Linked DNA regions of Homo sapiens: region 2 is linked to region 1. A link means that fine-mapping ties the variant in region 1 to the expression of a gene that starts in the linked region. Tissue or cell type: whole blood. Region 1 holds a variant in brackets; the other region holds the start of a gene. All regions are shown on one strand. Distances are between the middles of the regions.

Evidence for each region. PIP is the estimated chance that this variant, and not a neighbour inherited with it, causes the effect.
Region 2: ZNF605 starts here. The variant in region 1 is fine-mapped to the expression of ZNF605 in whole blood (INTERVAL, PIP 0.94).

Annotation. Positions count from the first base shown.
Region 1 is chr12:132,613,791-132,621,893 of GRCh38, forward strand. It overlaps P2RX2 (purinergic receptor P2X 2), which reads left to right and starts at 4,986. Exons shown (of 11, transcript NM_170682.4): 1 at 4,986-5,199; 2 at 5,649-5,784; 3 at 5,889-5,960; 4 at 6,054-6,129; 5 at 6,210-6,306; 6 at 6,477-6,557; 7 at 6,655-6,793; 8 at 7,211-7,341; 9 at 7,465-7,555; 10 at 7,685-7,750; 11 at 7,829-8,103. The coding sequence starts at 5,027. The variant TTGTGTGTG/T (reference allele first, on the strand shown) is at 3,196.
Region 2 is chr12:132,951,790-132,959,892 of GRCh38, forward strand. ZNF605 (zinc finger protein 605) reads right to left here and starts at 4,517. Exons shown (of 5, transcript NM_183238.4): 1 at 4,454-4,517. LOC124903064 (a long non-coding RNA gene) reads left to right here and starts at 4,760. Exons shown (of 2, transcript XR_007063552.1): 1 at 4,760-4,941. RefSeq lists enhancers at 3,235-4,065, 3,494-3,788, 4,066-4,894, 4,648-4,727 and a silencer at 4,148-4,487.

The sequences.
Region 1 (8,103 bases):
CGAGACCAGCGTGGGTAACATAGGGAGACCCCATCTCTACCAAAAAATAAATAAAAAATTAGCCAGGCATGGTGTCTTACACCTGGAGTCTCAGCTACTCAGGAGGCTGAGGCAAGAGTATCGCTTGAACCCAGGAGGTGGAGGTTGCAGTGAGCCAAGATCGTACCACCACACTCCAGCCTGGGTGACAGAGTCAAATACTATCTCAAAAAAAAAAAAAGAATTATGTTGTCACTTGAGCACAGTGGCTCGTGCCTATAATTCCAGAACTTTTGGAGGCCAAGGCAAGATCAGTTGAGCCCAGGAGTTCGAGACCAGGCTGATGGGTAACCCAGTGAGACCCTGTCTCTACAGAAAATGGAAAAAGTAGCCTAGCGTGGTGGCACGTGCCTGTGGTCCCAACTACTCAGGAGGCTGAGGTGGGAGGGTCACTTGAGCCCGGAGGTCAAGGCTGCAGTGAGCTAGGATTGCACCACTGCACTCCAGCCTGGGCAACAGAGTGAGATCCTATCTCAAAAAAAATTATGAAAAAAAATTATGTTGTCAAACTCATAGAAGTGGAGAGTAGAATGGTGGTTGCCAGAGGCTGCAGAGAGGGTAAAAGGGAATTGCTCCTGAACAGGGATAAAGTTTCAGTTTCAGTTATGCAAAATGAGTATGTTCCAGGTCTGCTATACAACATCACACCTGTAGTTAACAATACTGTATTGTTCAATTAAAATGTTGTTAAAAGGGTGGGTCTCATGTTAAATGTTTTATTACAATAAAAAATAATTTTTAGGAAGAAAGTTGTTAACTGGGTTTTTGTTTGTTTGTTTGTTGTTTTGCAGATATCCTTTAACAGACCTAAAGCTGTGTGATTTCTAGTAATCCACCTTTCAGAGCGTGACTTCCACCCGTCTAAATCCCTGGGAGTGAACTCATGGAGTTCTGGGGGGAAAAAAAATCCTGGGAGGTCGGGTTGGCCACAAAGCCCAAGATGTTCCCCAATTTACTAATTAGGTTAGAATTCCACACAACCAGCACCTCACCACCACCAAGAATTCTAATGGAAACTTTCTTCAGTGAAAACTAACTTCATTTATTTCAAGGCTGGTGCTAATTTTGGTTGTTGACTGCTTTGGCCTCCGATTATGGGAGGTATCCTGGGTGGGAACTGTCAGGGGAAGCTACTTGGAAGGCAGGACTGAGCCGGACCAAATTGCAAGATTCAAACCAGTGAGGAGGCCCAACAGCGGATTCTCCACAGACCCAGCAGAAGCTCTCGGGGGCTGGAAAAGGGCGCCACCTGGTGGCATCTGAGCAGAAGTCAGTGACACGTTTTCACCCACATGTCAGTACAGCTCCCGAAGCAGGTCCAGCGGAAAAGCTCCGGTATGAAGCTTTTCCCTTTACAGTGTGCTGTGAGGGTGTGTAACCACAGTTAATGGAAAGGGACCTCACTGGACTCAATCCAGTGACATCACACATGCCGTGTCTCCCACCCACAGAGAGAACTCCCAGGTCTTGAGTATGTGATGCCTGGAGCCTCATCTACCTTCTGAAGGCATCGTTCAGGCACGCTTTACATATGAGCAGTGTTTGGATTATTAATTGGAAAGGTCAGAACACCGTTTCAGCGGGTATATGAAAGTGATAGCAGCGGTGTCTGGAACATAAAGGAGAGTGTGTTTGTCCACTCTTCCTAGGGACACAGGGACGGGGACACTCCCCACTCTCCCCTGGGACACGGGAATGCTCTCCACTCTCCCCTGGGACACAGGGACGGGAACACTCTTCCCTGGGACACATGGGGACGCTCCCCACTCTCCCCCGGGACACAGGGGGACACTGTCCACTCTCCCCTGGGACACACGGGGACACTGTCCATTCTCTCCCGGGACACACGGGGACGCTCTCCACTCTTCCCTGGGACACACGGGGATACTCTCCCCTGGGACATATGGGCTGTCCACTCTCCCCCGGGACACACGGGGACGCTCTCTAGTCTTCCCTGGGACACACGAGGACTCTCTCCACTCTTCCCTGGGACACATGGGGACACTCTCCAGTCTCCCCTGGGACACATGGGGACGCTCTCCACTCTCCCCTGGGAGTTCCAGAGTGACCGTCATCGTGAAAAATGACAGGGATTGATGTAGTTTCCTGGCTTTTGACATTAACCCACAAACCCAACTACCACTCTGGGTTTTTCCTAGAGCGTAAGCCTTAGCTGACGCCATCCACACATTATGGTGCTGTGGATTTTCCTGTAATGAAAAGGAAAAGATTCAGACAGCAGGAAATAAGGGGCCAGGGGGAGGCTAAGGCTGTCATGATGGCAGAGAAGTCTCAACCCATGATCTTGGAAAAGCTGTCCACATTTAGGATCCCGTCTGCTTCTGGGGAAAACTTCCCTGGTTAGCTTCACCTTAAGGTCTCCGAAAGGTGTACGGTTCCAAGAATCTGGAGGGGTCTTTTTGAGTTTGGGGTTAGCCGATTTTTCTAAAATGTGCACAAGTTCTGGGTCCATAGTTCTTACACACATAATTAGCAAACGTCCCAGAAGGCGGCACGCAGACTCCTTGGATTCAGACAAACCCAAGCCAAAAGGGACCTACTCAAGGCCTCTAACTGGATACAATAGAGTTAAGTTTTGGATCCAATTCAATCCTGGACCCATTCCGGTCTAAGAATTGCTCAAGGCCGGGCGCCGTGGCTCATGCCTGTAATCCCAGCACTTTGGGAGGCCAAGGCAGGTGGATTGCCTGAGCTCAGGAGTTTGAGACCAGCCCAGGCAACACAGTGAAACCCCGTCTCCACTAAAATACAAAAAAATTAGCCGGGCGCGGTGGCATGTGCCTGTAATCCCAGCTACTTGGGAGGCTGAGACAGGATAATTGCTTGAATCTGGGAGGCGGAGGTTGCAGTGAGCTGAGATCACGCCACCGCACTCCAGCCTGGGCAACAGAGTGAGACTCCATCTCAAAAAAAAAAAGAATTGCTCAAAGTAGAGGGCTCAAAACACATGGTCATAGAGCACAAATCCAGCAGAGAGAACTCACCTATGACTCTAGATGCTTTGAGAGATCAGCAGGCACACAGGCCCTACTGAGCATTCAGTGCTCCTAGGGGGTGGCTGGAGGTCTACTTCAGATCCCACTTCTGACACCAAACTGTTAAAACAAAAACTTTGGACAAATTAAATTTAAGAGT[TTGTGTGTG/T]TGTGTGTGTGTGTGTGTGTGTGTGTGTGTGTGTGTGACAGAGTCTCCCTCTGTCATGCAGGCTGGAGTGCAGTGGTGCAATCTCAGTTCACTGCAACCTCCACCTCCCAGATTCCAGTGATTCTCCTGCCTCAGCCTCCCGAGTAGCTGAGATTACAGATGCCACAACACCTGGCTAACTTTTGTGTTTTTAGTGGAGACGAGGTTTCGCCATGTTGGCCAGGCTGGTCTCGAACCCCTGATCTCAAGTGATCCACCCATGTTGGCCTCCCAAAGTGCTGGGATTACAGGTATGAGCCACTGTGCCCAGCCAACAGAGTTTAATTGAGCAAAACACAACTCATGAATTGGGCAGCACTCAGAACCAATGGGGGAGGTTCGAGAGCTCCACTCTGTAATGTGGGCAGGAAGTTTTTATAGATAGAACACAGAAGTGAGATACAAAAAAAAAAAAATCACAATTAGCTTGATTTTGTTACTGCTTGAAATGTTTGCCTTATATGGCATGATCAGATCAGTTAGCAGCCTGTGACTGGCTGAGACCCAGCTATTTGTTCCAAAATATACTCATAGGTTAAGCTTTTAGCTTGTTTCTGTGGTACATTAGGTTGCAGTTTGTTGTTACCTAGAAACTCAAGGCACAGAGGCAGCCTGTTAATTGAGTTAATTTAACAGTTCAAACAAATACTTATGCACCAGTGTTTATAACAGCACTATTCACAGAGTTAGTTTGAAAGCAATCTAAATTCCTTCTTTGGATAGCCTAGACATTTCTCCTGGCCATAAGAAGGGGTGATGCCCTGACACATGCTACAATGTGGATGAACCTTGAAAACATGCTCAGTGAATGAAGCCAGACAGAAAAGGCATTAACCCAGAAACAAATATTGCATTTCCTTGATATGAAATATCCAGAACAGGCAAGTCCATTCACTGAGACAGAAAAGCGACCAGTGGTTGCCAGGGCATGGGAGGAGTGTGGAACGGGTCGTGACTGCTTAATGGATGGGAGTTTTATTTTGGGGTGGGGAAAGTGTTTGGGGACGAAACAGAGGCGGTGGTGGTTGCACAATGTTGTGAATGTCACTGAATTGTTTACTTTAAAATAGTTAATTACATGCTATGCTGATTTTATCATAATAAACTATTTTAAAATTATTTTGTGAAAAACTGTGATGCTTGGGATTTGCTTCAAAATAATGTGGGTGGGGTGGAGGTTCGAAAAGTTACCAAAAAAAAAAAAAAAGAAAGAAAGAAAGAAAGAAAACTCTGGCTTGCAAAGAAGAAAACGGATCGGCCGTGGATCCCTCTCCAGCTCGAGGGCTGGAGCTGCGGCGGAGGCAGGAGCTGGAAGCGAGGCGTCTGCTGGCAAAGGCGGGAGTGCAGGTTGCGCTCGAAGCCCCGGCAGCCGCGGCAGGAACCGGCCTGGACGGGGTGGGGGGCGCCGCGGAGGCCGGCGGGACTTCCCATGTCTTTCTCCTCGAGCTCGGAAAAAGTTCCCACCCGGGGAATCCCGACCCTCCAACTTCGAGACCGCCGGTTCCGCGCTCGGCCCCCACCTGGACCAAGAGCTGGGGCTGGGCTGCCGCGCCCCCGGCTCTGTCCCCGCGAGGCCCCGCTCCCAGCCCCACCTGGGACACCCGGGACTCCCGGGACACCTGCGGGGCGGGGCGGGGCCGGGGCGAGGCGGGGCGGGCTCGAGGCCGCACCCCGGAGGCGGAGCCGCGAGCTACCCGCCCGCCGCGCGCCCCCCGCTCTCGGTGCGCAGCGGGGCCGACCCTCAGCCCTGCAGCGCCTTCCTGGAGGTGGGGGCCGCCCGCGCCATGGCCGCCGCCCAGCCCAAGTACCCCGCCGGGGCGACCGCCCGGCGCCTGGCCCGGGGCTGCTGGTCCGCCCTCTGGGACTACGAGACGCCCAAGGTGATCGTGGTGAGGAACCGGCGCCTGGGGGTCCTGTACCGCGCCGTGCAGCTGCTCATCCTGCTCTACTTCGTGTGGTGCGCGGGGCGCGGGGTGCGGGGCGCGGGGTGCGGGGCGCAGGGGAGGGGCTGGGATTGGGGGCGCTGGGCTGGAGGCGCGGGGCTGGGGCTGGGGCTGGGACCGGGGGCGCGGGGCAGGGGCTGGGGCTGGGACCGGGGGCGCGGGGCAGGGGCTGGGATTGGGGGCGCGGGGCAGGGGCTGGGACTGGGGGCGTGGGGCAGGGGCTGGGACTCGGGGTGCTGGGCTGGAGGCGCGGGGCTGGGGCTGGGACCAGGGGCGCGGGGCAGGGGCTGGGGCTGGGACCGGGGGCGCGGGGCAGGGGCTGGGGCTGGGACCGAGGGCGCGGGGCAGGCCCCAAGAGCCCCGCAGAGCGGACCCGGGTCGCGGGAGGGCCCCTGCCGTGCCTGCGGGCGGGACTCAGCCTTCCCAGGGTCGCCTCCGGAGCCGGCGCCGCCCCTGCCCGCAGGTACGTATTCATCGTGCAGAAAAGCTACCAGGAGAGCGAGACGGGCCCCGAGAGCTCCATCATCACCAAGGTCAAGGGGATCACCACGTCCGAGCACAAAGTGTGGGACGTGGAGGAGTACGTGAAGCCCCCCGAGGTGCGGGCCGCCCCCTGCCCCCCGCCCCGCCGTGCACCCTACCCTAGTGGGCGGAGGGGGCAGCGGCTGCCGCCTGGCCGACCGCCCCCTCTTTCTGAGCCCAGGGGGGCAGCGTGTTCAGCATCATCACCAGGGTCGAGGCCACCCACTCCCAGACCCAGGGAACCTGCCCCGAGGTGAGGGGATCCCGCGGCGCTGGGGGACCCCGCCTCAGCTAGGCGGGCCAGCTGTCCCTTGCGGGGTCCCTGACTGGGCCGCCTCCACCCTAGAGCATAAGGGTCCACAACGCCACCTGCCTCTCCGACGCCGACTGCGTGGCTGGGGAGCTGGACATGCTGGGAAACGGTCGGTGTGCGCCAGCTGGGGCTGGGCGGGTGGGGCAGGGCTGCGTCCCCGCTAATGCCTCAGTGACCTCTGCCTCCCAGGCCTGAGGACTGGGCGCTGTGTGCCCTATTACCAGGGGCCCTCCAAGACCTGCGAGGTGTTCGGCTGGTGCCCGGTGGAAGATGGGGCCTCTGTCAGGTGCACCTGCGCCCCGGCCTGGGGCCCAGCCTCCCCTCTGATCCTTTTCCCCTGACCAGAGGCCAAACGGGCGGGGCAGGAGTGACAAGATCTGGGGAGGGGTGGGGGCCAATGCCAGGCGGGGGCTTTGCGGGAAGAGGGGACTAAACAACCCTTCTGTGCCTCCTCAGCCAATTTCTGGGTACGATGGCCCCAAATTTCACCATCCTCATCAAGAACAGCATCCACTACCCCAAATTCCACTTCTCCAAGTAAGAGCCGCGGGGTGTGGTGACGGCCCAGCCTGAGGGCTGCCTTCTGGGAATGGGGTATTTGGGGTGCAGGTCTCGCCTCCTGCCGCCTCCTCAGGGGCAACATCGCCGACCGCACAGACGGGTACCTGAAGCGCTGCACGTTCCACGAGGCCTCCGACCTCTACTGCCCCATCTTCAAGCTGGGCTTTATCGTGGAGAAGGCTGGGGAGAGCTTCACAGAGCTCGCACACAAGGCAGGGCAAGCGCAGGCAGGGTGGGGCCAGGGTGGGCTCCCACCTGCACAGAGAGGGCCTGGGGTACAGGGGACCAGTCCCTCCTCCCTCCTGACCAGCTGGCCCCGCTCAGGCAGAGGAAAAGAAATGCGATCAGCGCAACCCATCCGGTGTGGCGCTTGCTGAATTATTGACACTGGCCATGGGGCTGGCTGCTGGCACCCCTTGTGCCTCAGACACTGGACGCCCACCAGTACCCCTGAGCTGCCCCATGGGCCCCTCAGTGCACACCTCACATGCAGCCTGGGACTGACCCGGGCTCTCGAGGGGCCTCTCGTGTGCCCTTGTGACCCCCTTCCCTGGCCTGGGACTGACCCGGGCTCTCGAGGGGCCTCTCGTGTGCCCTCCTGACCCCCTTCTCTGGCTCCTTCTTGGCAGGGTGGTGTCATCGGGGTCATTATCAACTGGGACTGTGACCTGGACCTGCCTGCATCGGAGTGCAACCCCAAGTACTCCTTCCGGAGGCTTGACCCCAAGCACGTGCCTGCCTCGTCAGGCTACAACTTCAGGTGCTGTACTTGGGACACCGCTGTCCACACTGGCATAGCTGTGGTGGGGTCCCGAGAGGCCCAATGCCTGTGGGGCAGCCCTGGAGTGCAGAGGACGAGTGGGCACTGGCGTTCCCATTGCAGGTTTGCCAAATACTACAAGATCAATGGCACCACCACCCGCACGCTCATCAAGGCCTACGGGATCCGCATTGACGTCATTGTGCATGGACAGGTGCCTGCACCTGCTGGGGGTGGGTGGCCAGCCCTGCTAGCCTGGGTCTGAGCTCCTCACGCCCCACCCCTCCCTTAAGCCCCATCAGACGCCGTCAGACATTCTGACCACGACCCCCATTCTCCCCAGGCCGGGAAGTTCAGCCTGATTCCCACCATTATTAATCTGGCCACAGCTCTGACTTCCGTCGGGGTGGTAAGGAACCCTCTCTGGGGTCCCAGCGGGTGCGGGGGGTCCACCAGGCCCTTACACACCGGTCTCTGCTGGCCCCAGGGCTCCTTCCTGTGCGACTGGATCTTGCTAACATTCATGAACAAAAACAAGGTCTACAGCCATAAGAAATTTGACAAGGTGTGTACGCCGAGCCACCCCTCAGGTAGCTGGCCTGTGACCCTTGCCCGTGTATTGGGCCAGGCCCCTCCCGAACCCGGCCACCGCTCCGAGGACCAGCACCCCAGCCCTCCATCAGGCCAGGAGGGCCAACAAGGGGCAGAGTGTGGCCCAGCCTTCCCGCCCCTGCGGCCTTGCCCCATCTCTGCCCCTTCTGA
Region 2 (8,103 bases), 340 kb after region 1:
ACATGTACATCACACATCACACACATACACATACACCACACATACACATACACGCATACATCACACACTATACTCACACTCATACACACATACACACTCATACACACATCACACACATTCAAACACATACGTACATCACACAATACACATTCCCACACACGTACATACATCACATACACACACGTTCACACACATCACACACACACAGTCTCATTTACTCGCTACGAAAGCAGCATTTGCTGAATTCCTATTACACACCAGGCACTGTTCTGAGCACACGGGAAAGACCACTCAACAAGATGTACGGTGTCTCTGCCCTCTAGGGAAACAGCCAAGTAAATAAATGATTTCTGACTGTGAGCGCTCAGAAGAAATTTTAACTGTGGGCCAGGCGCGGTGGCTCACGCCTGTAATCCCAGCACTTTGGGAGGCTGAGGCGGTAGGCAGATCACTTGAGGTCAGGAGTTCGAGACCAGCCTGGCCAACATGGTGAAACCCCATCTTTACTAAAAATACAAAAAATTAGCCGGGCATGGTGGCGGGCACCTGTAATCCCAGCTACTGGGGGCGTTGAGGCGGAAGAATCACTGGAACCCAGGAGATGGAGGTTGCAGTGAGCTGAGATCACGCCACTGCACTCAAGCATGGGCGACTCTGTCTCAAAAAAAAAAAAAAAAAAAGGAAATTTTAACTGTGACCAAGGGATGAATGGGCAGAAGATATTCCTCCCAGACGTCGTAGAGGCTTGTGGGAGGAGGTGGCTTTTAGCTGAGCCTGAAGCAGGAGCAGTCCGCCACGGAAGGCTGGGCCGACCACACCACTCCAGGCACCTCAGATGCAAAGGTCTTGGGTGGGGGAGCCGGAGGTCATCAGGAGGGATGGAAGAGGCCTAGGAGGTACAAACAGCAAGGGGGAAATTCTACAAGGAGAAGACCTTAAGGCCAACGGGGTCACTGAGAACTTTTAAAAAAGGAAATAATCACGTAAAAAGAGTGATCACTGATCAGCGGTCACAAGCTACAAGGAGAGGGCCAAAGGGCAAAAAGACCTGTCACTCACGAGAGGCTTGCCTGAGCCAACCCACGACCCATTCACATTCGGATCTGCTTCCAGACCCACCAACACGGCCCTGCCAAGTTCCCCGGATTACCAAGTCCCAGAGAGGGCCTCCATCACACACACACCCCAGACACAAACCACTGAACTCCGCAGCTCCAAGCCCCTGCCAACCTCCAGCATCCCAAGTCCCCCAGTCACTCACAGTGACCACCTGAGAATTCTCCAGGTCCACATCCCAAGACATCCCCAGATCACTGAATCCAATAGGCCTGCTTCACAGACCTCCAGACCACACAACCACCGAACCCCATCAACCCCACTCTCACTCACCCCATGTGCCCCCATCACTCCCACAGGACCACAATGGCTGACTTCACAGGCCACCCAGTCTCTCTCCCCAAGAGGCCGCCCCTCCAGGGCCTTCAGAGACACACACTATGGGTTCCCCAGTGACCATCCAACAAAGACCCCAGGCGGTAACTCTAGTGGCCCCACAACAGCCTCCAGAAACACCTGACCACAGACTCCACAGACTGGCACAGTATAGACCACTAATCACAGATACCCAAAGGCCACTAACTTATTATTATCTTTTTTAAGATGGAGTCTCACTCTGTCATCAGGCTGGAGTGCAGTGGCAAAATCTCGGTTCACTGCAACCTCTGCCTCCTGGGTTCAAGCAATTCTCCTGCCTCAGCCTCCTGAGTAGGTGGGATTACAGGCGCCCACCACCATGCCCAGCTAATTTTTGTATTTTTAGTAGAGACGGGGTTTCACCATGTTGGCCAGGATGGTGTGGATCTCTTGACCTCCTGATCTGCCTGCCTCAGCCTCCCAAAGTGCTGGGATTACAGGTGTGAGCCACGGTGCCCAGCTAAGGCCACTAACTTCTAACTCCACATTCACCGCAAATGGCAAACAAACTCTTAGGCTCCCCAGGCTTCCCTCTCACTGACACCCACAGGGTCCCCAATTTCTCACCCTCACCCACCCGCACACCCATCACAGACACTTGCACGCATACTTGGCATTGATCCCAAGCCCTCCGATCATTCCTCCTCACAGACCTCACTGCCCACCCCATCAGTCATTCAGTCATCTCTGGTACCCGGTCACTAATACAAACAAGCTCCTTCTCACCTGGTTCCAACACCCTCAAATAACAAAGCCAATGCCAGGGCACGAGCCAATAAAACTGTCCCCCATTCAACGATGTACACTGGACCCTTTATTCCTAATCCTCCACAGGCCCCCAGACACTTACCATTCCTACGTCACACCATAGACCTCACAGGCCAGGCAGAGTTATCCCTACAGGCCCAACTGATGACTGGACCTCAGTGACTCCCACAGGGCTTTTAAATACAGATGCCAGACACCATAATCACCAGCACCCCCAAAGCCCCACTTAAGAATCACCACAGACTGAAACCCCAAACTCTGAGTCCCAAAGGATCCCCACAGAACTCAGATACTCCTGCAGATGAGCTGGGGAGGGGAGGAGAAGGGTGGGGAGCGGGGGAGAAGGGGCTTCAGTCACTCCTGCAGGTGAGGTGGGGAGGGGATGAGAAGGATGGGGGAGGAGAAGGGTAGGGAGGGGAGGAGAAGGGTGGGGAGGGGAGGAGAAGGGGCTTCTGTCCTGGGACGAACACACTGGTCTCCATTCACTCACTTCATCAGGTGCCCAAGTCAGGCGCTCACAGAGCCCCTCCCCTGTAACTGACATTCTGAGGCTTGCGCCACAGACCCCCTAAATTAGACCCCAGTCACTCAATGCCCAGGGATCCCTAATCCCTTATCCCCGGGGCCCCCAAGCATTCGCCCCCATGACACCCCATTCTCTAATCCACTCCATGCTGGAGCATTCACTGACATTCCCACAGGCCCTCCCAAACACCACCTGGAAAGGGATTGTGGGGCTCTGCACAAATGCCGATCCCGCAGGCCCCTCCAATGACGCCAAGTATGACCCCCGTTGTCCACGCACTCACAACTTGCAACAGGTCCACCATTAACTTACATCCAGACTCCCTTGTCACAAATACACAGCGCCATTCCTAATGCTTCCATCATAAGATCCCCAAACACAAGCACAGAAACAAACCCCAGCCACTCGCCAGCATAGGCCACCCCATACTCGCCTCCGCTATTGGAGACAGGGGTTGAAAGAGCAACCACTGTTATTCAGCTGTCAAATAAAACATACAACTGGACAGAGCAAAGAAAGACGGTTCCAAAGGGTTATTGGAAGTGGGGAAAAAAAGACGCGGAAGAGGGTTGGGAAGGGGAAGGAGAACGGGCTTCTGGGAAGAACCGTGAAGCCACGAGACTCACGTGCATCTCTGCAAGGCAAAAAGGGTTTTTCTTTCACAGAGAGGTGTGAACAAGGTTAGCAAAGACCAGGCCTGGCCAAGCGAGGTGGAAGTGCGGGCGACCAGACAGCAGAGCGGGGAAAGCTTGACCCTGAGCCAGCCTGTTCTCAGGCGAGGCTGCGTGTTGGCTCAGGCTGGGGATGGGCCAAAGCTCAAGAAAATGGGGAAAGGAAAGAAGCTTAGCTAAAGTTTGCTTAAGGAGCATTTTGCTCCGACCGCTCGGTGGAGTTCAGCCAGTCACCGATGAGGCAAGCGACGGCAACGTGGCAGGTCTGTGTGAACAAGGGGCATCCTGGAGGCTGACCAAAGTCATATAGGGAACGGGAGATCTTTGCAGTGAGCCATTTGCTGGAACCCAAAAGGGTGGGAAATTCCTCAACCTTCGCTGTTTTCCAGGAGCACAGGGCTCTGGTGAAATCCAACACTGTCACAGCCGGCAGGCTTTCCAGTGAATGGAACCCACACAAGCAAGCCCCTAAGCCCTCCAACGCAGGCCCCCGCAGAAGCCTCATCATTCACCCCGCTGGCCTCCAATGCTCACCCAAAGGCATCCAAATCATTCATCAGCAGAGTCCTAATCGCTGCAGACAAATCCTCCACACGGCCTCCCAGGGGCCCCTCTCCCCTGGGGCCAAGGGCAACCTCGCGTCCCCTTGCCCCGCCCGTGCTGCACCCCAAGTCTACAGCGACCTCCATAGGCCCCCAGTGAATCGCCCAGCTGACCCCAAATCTCCCCCGACACCCACATTCAGCGCCCCGCCGCCGCCCGCCCTACAGCCCCCACCCCACCCTCTGCCTCCCACCCCCGCGCGCCCCCAGAGCCCCCGCCTGAGGCCCGCCTTCCGCGCATGCGCCCAGGCCGGTCCGCAGGCCTTTCTCGCCCCAGCCGGCAGCCAGCTCGTTCGCGCTGGGGTCACCGCGAGCCGGTCCGCAGCGGGGTCACCGCGATCCCCGGCGCAGACACAGAGGCCGCCCCCAGCCCCGCCGCCTCGTGGTCCCGCCCCCGCTGCACGCTCCCTTACCCCTCGGACCTCGCAGGGCCGCGGCGGACACGGCCCGATCGGGGACGTGAACGCGCAGAACTACATTTCCCAGCGTCCCGCTCGCGCTGGAACTACACTTCCCGGGGGGCTCGGCGGTGCACCCGCCGGGGTCGCGGATTGGAGGTTTCCGGTTGGAAAAGCCCCTTGGCGGCTAACTGGGGAGGACTGGAAGAAATCTAGGATGGAGCCAGCACTGCTGGCCCAACATGTCTGTGAGAGAACCTAAAGGCGCCTCCAGGAGGAAGCGTCTGCATCTTTTCCTTGTTTTTTTTTTTTTTTTTTTTGGAGGCAGGGTCTCGCTCTGTCACCCAGTGGGGAGTGCAGTGGTGCCATGAACGCTCATTGCAGCCTCAGGCTGGTCTCCGACTCCTGGGTTCAAATGATCCTCCTGCCCCAGCCTCCCAAAATGCTGGAATTACAGGCATGAGTCACTGCGTCCGGCTGCTTTTCCATTTTTCATCGTAGCTGTAAGTAATATCGGTAAATGTTAGTGTTACGTGCGTCCGTATAGGAGACCACCTGAGCAGGCTAAGTGTGAGCAACACGCCTGTTTATTCACTTGGGTGCAAGTGGGCTGAGTCTGAGAAAGGAGTCAGCGGAGGGTGGTGGGCTTGTCATTGGTTCTTATAGCTTTGGGATAGGATAGGCGGTGGAGTCAGCAGCAATTTTTTTTTTTTTTTTTTTTTTTGAGACAGAGTCTCACTCTGTCGCCGAGGCTGGAGTGCAGTGGCGCGATCTCGGCTCACTGCAAGCTCCGCCTCCCGGGTTCACGCCATTCTCCTGCCTCATCCTCCTGAGTAGCTGGGACTACAGGCACCCGCCACCACGCCCGGCTAATTTTTTTGTATTTTTAGTAGAGACGGGGTTTCACTGTGTTAGCCAGGATGGTCTTGATCTCCTGACCTCGTGATCCGCCCTCCTCGGCCTCCCAAAGTGCTGGGATTACGGGCGTGAGCCACCGCGCCCGGCCTCAGCAGCAATTTTTTGCGGGCAGGGGAGGATGTTACAAAGTACATTCACAAGGGCGGGGAGGGTGTATTGTCACAAGGGCGGAGAGGAATGTTACAAAGTACATTCACAAGGACCGGGAATATTACAAAGTACATTATCACAAGGGTGGGGGAATGTCACGATGGCTTGACCATGGTGCGGCCAGCTCAGAGGACCTTACATTTAGTACATCCAATCCAGCAGTATTGACAAAAGGAATGAAAATAGATGATAGGGTTGGGCGCGGTGGCTCACGGCTGTAATCCCAGCACTTTGGGAGGCTGAGGTGGGCGGATCACCAGGTCAGGAGATTGAGACCATCCTGGCCAACACGGTGAAACCCCGTCTCTACTAAAAATACAGAACATTAGCTGGGCGTGGTGGTGGGCGCCTGTAATCCCATCTACTCGGGAGGCTGAGGCAGGAGAATCACTTGAACTCGGGAGGCGGGGGTTGCGGTGAGCCATCATGCCGCTGCACTCTAGCCTGGCAACAGAGTGAGACCTCATCTCAAGAAAAAAAAAAGGAAAAATAAATGAGATGAGGACATTACAGGGAAATAAAATATATTTATGGATATATAAAGCAGTGGCTTGTCCCTGTAGTCCCAACTACTGGAGGCTGAGGCAGGAGGATTGCCTGAGCCTGGGAGGTTGAGGCTGCAGTGAGCTATGATGGCAACACTGCACTCCAGCCTGGGCCACAGAGGGAGACACCTTCTCTTAAAAATATTTTTTGGCCAGGCCAGGCGCGGTGGCTCACACCTGTAATCCCAGCACTTTGGGAGGCTAAGGCGGGCGGATCACCTGAGGTCAGGAGTTCGAGACCAGCCTGACCAACATGGTGAAACCCCATCTGTACTAAAAATATAAAAATTAGCCAGGTGTGGTGGCTCATGCCTGTAATGGCTCATACCTGTAATCCCACCTACTCAGGAGGTGGAGGCATGAGAATTGCTTGAACCCAGGAGGCAGAGGTTGCAGTGAGCTGAGATCTCACCACTGCACTCCACCCTGGGAGACAGAGTGAGATTCTGTCTAAAAAAAAAAAAAAAGAAAAAGAAAAACTGTAAAAGCATATTAGTTTTTTAAAATAAAAATGGGGAGAAACAGGAAACACACTCACAATTGGCAATTTAAAAAATTGAAATGGCCATAAAGACCAAATTAAAGTATATATGAAATAATATTTTGCTCAATTCTATATTAGTAAATTTGGAGCCTGTGAGAGATGGAGTTTTGCTCTTGTCGCCCAGGCTGGAGTGCAGTGGCACAATATCGGCTCACTGCAGCCTCCGCCTCCTGAGTTCAAGTGATTCTCCTGCCTCAGCCTCCCGAGTAGCTGGGATTGCAGGCGTGCGCCACCACGCCCGGCTAATTTTTGTATTTTTAGTAGAGACGTGGTTTCACCATGTTGGTCAGGCTGATCTTGATCTCTTAACCTCGTGATCCGCCTGCCTCGGCCTCCCGAAGTGCTGGGATTACAGGCGTGAGCCACTGCGCCCAGCCACTCCCAGCTACTTTTTGTATTTTTAGTAGAGATGGGTTTCACCATGTTGGCAAGGCTGGTCTCAAACTCCTGACCTCTGGTGATCCATGCGTCTCGGACTCCCAAAGTGCTGGGATTACAGACCTGAGCCACCGTACCCAGCCCACATTGCCCTGCTTCTAACTGAGATTCAACTTTATTTAAGCAAACCAATTCCATGCTCAACAGAGCTAAAATTAAAATTCTGCTTTAAGGTAGTTTTGTTTTTGTTCTCAGAAAATTTTGCTGTTCACAGATTTATGATTTTCACTTTTCTCCGAGGTTAAGCGTGTCATTTATTAAATGACTTACTAGAATTTATACGCCTTTTTTTTTTTTTTTTTTTTGAGATGGAGTCTTGCTCTGTCACCCAGGCTGGAGTGCAGTGGCGCGATCTCAGTTCACTGCTACCTCTGCCTCCTGGGTTGAAGCAATTCTCCCGCCTCTGCCCCCCGAGTAGCTGGGATTACAGGCACCCACCATCATGCCTGGCTAATTTTTTGTATTTTTGTAGAGACGAGGCTTCACCATGTTGGCCAGGCTGGTGTCGAACTCATGACCTCAGGTGATCCGCCTGTCTTGGCCTCCCAAAGTGCTGGGATTACAGGCATGAGCCACTGAGCATGGCCATGGCCTTTTCTTTCATTCCAATTTTGGTCAGGAAAGAAAACAGTTTCTCTCTCTAAAAAAAAATTCCATGGCTTAAGTAAAACTTGTAAGTTTAAAAAAAAAAAAAACTGGCTAAACTCTTAAGTTCAGTTCATTTGGCACATCTGAAGTCCCATTTTAAATGACCAAAGCCAGTAAAAAAAACTTTGTATAAAGACAGAGATAAGTCTTAAAGATAAGACACTCTTTCTCCCAGCCACAAGATAATTTAGTGACTTAGGTTTTGTGAAACTTTAAGCTCATCGTTCATGACATACGTTGGACCCATAAGACTCCCCTCAACAAAAAAAATACAAAAATCTCCTAGTGCCCTAAGTGCCCAAAATTACTGGGTTTCACCAAGACATCTATTGAAAAGTGACTCTTCAATAAATAATCCTTATTAAGCAGCATACCAGATCCAACAACTCTTTCCCTTTCAGTCTTTGATCTTTAAAACAAAA